Regions from separate parts of the Homo sapiens genome. Here region 2 is linked to region 1. Evidence: fine-mapped expression QTL. A gene starts in region 1. The other region holds a variant in brackets. All regions are shown on one strand. Distances are from middle to middle.

Region 1 (2,907 bases):
AGGGTATGCTCACAGGGGTGACCCACATGGCCAGGCTTTCCCAGGGAAGCAGGGCCGGGAGCCCTAGGGGTGGCGAGGTTGGCTCAGATCCTCGTGGGGGCCATTTTCTGCTGCTCCTATCTTCTTTGTTTTTCCTCTGAGGACCCTCATATTCGCCTCTGTCACTGCCACTGGCGGGATTTCACAGCCTTCCGGGGGCATGTGCTCCGCCCCCCAGGTTCTGCGGTCACTGTGCCAGAATCAGTCCCTGCAGGCACAGAGGGCACTGCCTAGAGACCTGGCACCGCAGCCCAGGTCTCTGAGGCCCCTGCAGCACGTGGCTGGGCAGGCTCGCTGGCCCTGTGTCCTCAGCCTTGGCAGCCTAGCCCGTGTTGGAGGCACCATCCTGCACTGACCAGGGTCTGCAGGTGGCAGGCATGCCACCGCCAGCCTGGACCCCAAGCCCTGTTCTTGTGTCCCTTGTTGCATGGCACAGAGGCCCCATCCAGGGAACTTATAAGCCTTCTCCTGGATGCCACCCCCAGGTCTGTCTGGAATGTGTGCACCTGTATCCTAATGCCAGCTCTGGGTCCTCTGACACCATTCTGCTTCAGAAGCAGCTCCGAATCCGTATCGCAGAGGGGACGAGTCCCCGGGCTGTGACTGAGCGCTTCCAGCTGCCTGGGTGTGCACCTTCCATCCCAGGAGTCCTCTTTCTCCCCGTCCCGGCCAGGACACAGGCTCTGAGAAGGGCGTTGCCCGATGGCTGGTGTTTCATTGACTTAGCCGCTAGCTCCACTCCCACAATTTAAGAATGGGGAGACCATCAGGACCCCAAAAGGTAGAGCTACTCACCTCACAGCCCCAGCAGGCTACGTCGCTTCATTCCCAGGCCGAAAGCGGCCACAGTCCCTGCCAGAAAGGAGCGATTCTCTGGCCCCGCTCCTTGAGGGGGTCAGCATGCGCAAGAGGCGCAGGCATCACCGGCTGGCCCGACTCCTCCTCACCAAGCTTCCCCCGGAGCAGCCGCGCAGCGCCCAGCTCGGGGCAGACGGCTGGGTCCTCTGTGGAACCATCCCCGACCGTCCCGGCCTGGAGCCCCGCCGGCGGCTAGCCCGGCGGCCAACGCCTCCCCTCCCCTCCCCCTCAATCCCGCCCCGGGGGCCGCCCCAAGCTCCCACTGCAGCGCCCCCAACGCTCTACCCGCTTCCCGATGCCCGCCTCCGGCCCCCCAATGCCGTCCCGCCGTGGTCGCCCCGGGTTCTCGCACGCCCCGCCCTCGGTTCCCACCGCTCTCCGCCTCCCCTTCCTCCATCCCCGCCGGGCAGGGCGCGCCCGAGACCCGCGCCGGGAGCGGCGGCCGGGGCCCCGAGTGGCCGGGAGGGGCTGGCGGGCTGGCGCGCGCGGCTCGGGTTTCGGCCCGCCCCCGGCGCCGGCGTGATCCCCTCCCGGGCGCGGGGCGGGGCCGGGCCCAGCTGGCCGCGCTCCGGGCGCTATAAGAGGGCGGCGGCCGCGGCGCGCCCTGCGCGGAGCTGGGAGCGCGATGGTCGGCCGCCGAGGCGCGGCAAGATGCTGGATGGGTCCCCGCTGGCGCGCTGGCTGGCCGCGGCCTTCGGGCTGACGCTGCTGCTCGCCGCGCTGCGCCCTTCGGCCGCCTACTTCGGGTAGGTGCCTTCGGCGGCCGGCGCGCACTGGTGGGCGGGGGCGGCGGGGCCGGGGCGGGGTCGTCCGGAGTCCCCGAGGCACCCGGGGTGGCTGGGGCCGGGGCGCGGCGGGGCCGCCGGGTTGCCTGGCGCTGTTTGTTTGCGGCGCGCGCGTCGCTCCGTCCGCTGCGCGGCACGGCTAGAGAGGCGGGTGGACCCGTCCGGCTTGCGCCGGGCCGCGGTCCTCCGTGACCGCAGAGTCGTCGTCGTCGTAGTCGCCGCCGTGAGCAGGACTGCCTCGCGCTTAGGGACTGGGATCAGGTCCCGACTTCCTTGGGCCGCCGTGTCCTTGCCAAAAGGCTGGAGCCTGAGTCCTCAGCCCCTGGCCATCGCCCACCTAGCAGCTTCCCCCCCTTTCTCTTCTCGAGAAGTTAATTTAACAATAACAAAAATACGTACAAAATCCAGATGTTCCTCGCGCTGAGCCCCAAACGGAGAGAGAGAGAGAAAGAGAGAAATCCTCCAAGCTGGAGGAATTTATTTTTCTTGCGCTTTGCTTCTGACTCTGTGGCCCGGGCCCCGGCCCGCGGGAGCGCGTCCATGGAACCTGGCCGGGAGCGCAGGGCCCGGCCGGGGCGTCCCGCGGTGTCATTGCCCGTGCTCACGTGTCTCTGCAGCAGCGCTTTGCCGGGCTGTCGGCGCGTCTCTCTCTTCCTTTCTTTCCCTTCCTTCTTCCCTCCCCCTCTCTGAGGTCTGGGATGCCCAGTCCTGCGACCTTTACAGGGACCCTCGCTGCGCTTTGGGCGCGCTGAGGTGCAGGGTGGCGCCGTGCGAGGCAGCGCCCCGGGCCTCCCCGCCACCCTCCAGCCTCCTACCCCGAGCGCCGCCGCTGGGAGCCCTGGCTGGCCTTCGGATCCCAGCCCCCGACCTGGACGCCCTGGGCCGCTCCCTCAGCCGGGCCGCCGCCCTCCGCCGGTCACCTGTTCCCGGCCCTCTGGCCTGAGCGCCAGCGCGCGGCGGGCTGGCCGGCAGAGGGCCCCGTTGGTCCAGGAATCTGGCACCCGCCCGGGCAGGGAGAGGCCGCCTGGGCCGAGGAGCCCTGCAGGTGTATCCTGTTCTCAAAGAAAATAAAATATTTTCATGGGAAACTTTCCCTTTGTGTTTTTCTTTCTCTCCCTTTCTTCTCTCTGTTCCTTTCTTCTGGGTCGTCTTCCAGGGTCAGCCCGGTGTCTCAGTTCCCTGGGGCCCCCACCCGCAGCCCTCTCCTGGCTCCAACTGTGGGTAC
Region 2 (2,907 bases), 370 kb after region 1:
GGCTCTAGACTTGCCCCTAGAAGGTAACCTCCACAACCTTGGAAAATTCTACCTGATAAGAAAGATTGTCTTAGCTCACTTGAGGTCTTGGGCAGCAACAGATATATGATTCTAACCATATAAGTGGAAGTGAATCTCTTGTTTTTGGATGCATGGGTCTCTGGGCCATGCTGTATTAGTTTGATCTCTACAGTAGAAATGGTGATTGAGTAGCTAGAGCCAATCATGTGCCCAATGCATGCCTATGCAATTGAATCCCAACAAAATACTTTGGACACCAAGACTCTGGTTGGTTTCTCTACTTGGCAAAACTTTGCACATGTCACATTATGACTGGGAAAATTATGTACTGCTTGTGTGACTCCACTGTGACAGGACAACTGGAGGCATGCACTTGGTCTCCTTTGAAAGCTTTCCTACCTCCTATTTTTTTTTCCCTAAATATAATCTGTATCTTTTCTATTTAATAAATTGTAGCCATAAATGTAACAGTTTTTCTAAGTGTTTTTAGTTTTTCTAATGAGTCATCAATTCTGACAGTGGTCAAGGAACTCCTGACAAAGTTAAATCAAAAGTGGAATTGCCTGTAATCCCAGCTACTTGGGAGGCCAAGGTATGAGAATTGCTTGAACCTGGGAGGTGGACGTTGCAGGGAGCTGTGATTGTGCCACTGCACTCCAGCCTGGGCGACAAGGCAAGACTCTGTCTCAAAAAAAAAAAAAAAAAGAAAAAAGAAAAAAAAAGAAATTTTCTAAAATGGACTTATTGAATTGTTGCAAAGTTATCATTATAGAAAAGGAAGAATTAATAGTAGGGGTTCATAAATATAATATTTGTTGCCTGGATGTCTACTGAATCATACATGGAATAAGACATCAGGTATGCTGTGAACAGTTATTAGATGTAAAGGTTACCAATAGAACTTAGAAATAATAGACCCAACGGATCTATTATTTCTAAGGAGTCAGAGCAACGGATACATAATAAGTAAAATAAATAAAAACAAGTGTTTAAAAATCTTAACAGGGAGGCTATTATAGTGGCAGTTCCAGTGCTTTAGGTTTCTAAGTAAGAAAGCCAGAATGCAATATAAACAGAACAAACAAAACTAGGGACTTTACCTATCAGAAATTGCCAATTAACCTTCAACTAAAATATAATCCTTTTAAGAACTACTTTTACAAAATATATATGACCAACTTATTAATGACAAAGTTGACAGTGCAGTAAGTAAATAATGTCTTATACTGGCACTAGTGGTGCCAAGCCTATTAGACATTCACACACACACACAGAAAAGATCTTGATTCTTATCTCAGGCCACACACATAAATTGATTATAGATGACTGTAGCTCTGAATGCAAAAGTTAAAATTATAAAGCTCTTAGAAGAAAACATAAGAGTGACATATGTATTATAATTGGCAAAACTTTTAAAAATAGAAACCAGGACCAGGTGTGGTGTCTCATACCTGTAATCTAAGAACTTTGGGAGGATTAGGCAGAAGAATCACTTGAGGGAAGGAGTTCAAGACCAGCCTGGGCAACATAGTGAGAATGCGTCTCTACAAAAAAAAAAAAAAAAAAAAAA[T/AT]TAGCTGGGCAAGTGGCATGCCCCTGTGGTCCTAGCTACCTGGGAAGCTGAGATGGAAGGATTGAAGGATTGCTTAAGTCCAGAAGTTTGCGGCTACAGTCAGCTATGACAATGTCAATGCACTTCACCAAGGGTGACAGAGTAAAACCTATCTCATACACACATATATACATATATAATAACAAATTAATTAACAAAAATAACCAGAAAAAAAGAAAAATTGATGTGACTACATTCAATTTAAGAAATTATTATCAAAATTAAGAAAATAAAAAACTAGAGTGGAAGAAGATATTCGTGTGTGTGTGTGTGCGTGTGTATATATCTGACAATATACTTGTATCCAGAATGTATAGAGTATTTGCAAATTAATAAGAAAAAGGTAGACAATGCAATATAACAATGCAAAAGTCTTAAACTGATACTTAAGAAAAATTACCTTCAGATGGCCATTAAACATATAAAATGACATCAACTTTATTAGTTATCAAGGAAATGCAAATTATATCTCAATGCAGTTCAGTTACATAGCCACCAAAATAATTAACATGAAAAAAGAAAACATACGAAATGTTTGCCAAGGTGTACAACAAATGAAACTCTCATGCGCTGCTGGTGGAAATGTAAATTGTAAGGACCACATTAGAAAACCATTTGGCAGTATATACTAAAGCTGAACATACGCATAACCTATAATCTAGCACTTTTTCTAGGTCTCTAGCATACAGCAATGTGACTACCTTGGCAACAAAGACATGCACTAAAAAGTTCAAAGCAAGAGTATTCATAATAGTCCCAAACTAGACACAATCGAAATTTTATCAACAATACAAGTTGATTTTATACAATGGAATACAATACAGCAATAAGTATAGATAGATTAGATTATGGATGAAAAAGAAGCAATGCGCCACTAAGAATGTTGAGTGAACGAAGCCAATCATAAAGAGTACACATTTTATGACCATAAAGTTCATAAATAGACAAAACTACTTAATGGTTTTAGAAATCAGGGTAATGTTTGCACTTGGTGGATAGGCAGAAACTACAAGAGGGCATCTAGATTTCTAGTAATCCATGCTTCCTTTAATTTTTCCTTTCTTTCTTTTCCTCTCTTCCTTCCTTCCTTCTTTTCTTTCTTTATTCCTCTTTTTAATGCTCTCCTTCTTGAACTGAGGGCTAGTTACCTAGGTATGTTGCAGAATTTTCTAACATTTATCAAGCTATATACTTATAACTTATGTATATTTATATATGTATAATATACTTCAATATAATTTTAATGACAAGCCCTAATACTTTTCTTAGCAATTGAC

Alleles and levels. Alleles are on the strand shown, and positions count from the first base shown. SD is a standard deviation of normalised expression in the study named.
For the expression in prefrontal cortex of the gene that starts at base 1,504 in region 1, allele AT in region 2 goes with a lower level than allele T (small effect, 0.35 SD a copy in ROSMAP).

Evidence for each region. PIP is the estimated chance that this variant, and not a neighbour inherited with it, causes the effect. A credible set is the group of variants that fine-mapping cannot tell apart.
Region 2: its variant is the best candidate, but not a certain one, in a credible set for the expression of WNT9A in prefrontal cortex (ROSMAP, PIP 0.52).

What each region holds. Positions count from the first base shown.
Region 1 is chr1:227,946,529-227,949,435 of GRCh38, reverse strand. WNT9A (Wnt family member 9A) reads left to right here and starts at 1,504. Exons shown (of 4, transcript NM_003395.4): 1 at 1,504-1,643. The coding sequence starts at 1,549. LOC124904533 (a long non-coding RNA gene) reads right to left here. Exons shown (of 2, transcript XR_007066912.1): 2 at 2,133-2,734. RefSeq lists silencers at 1,390-1,469, 2,573-2,682 and an enhancer at 1,550-1,599.
Region 2 is chr1:227,581,172-227,584,078 of GRCh38, reverse strand. The region is part of intron 1 of ZNF678 (zinc finger protein 678); the gene reads right to left. Among named protein-coding and RNA genes, the nearest start is that of ZNF678, 19 kb to the right of the region's middle. The variant T/AT (reference allele first, on the strand shown) is at 1,592.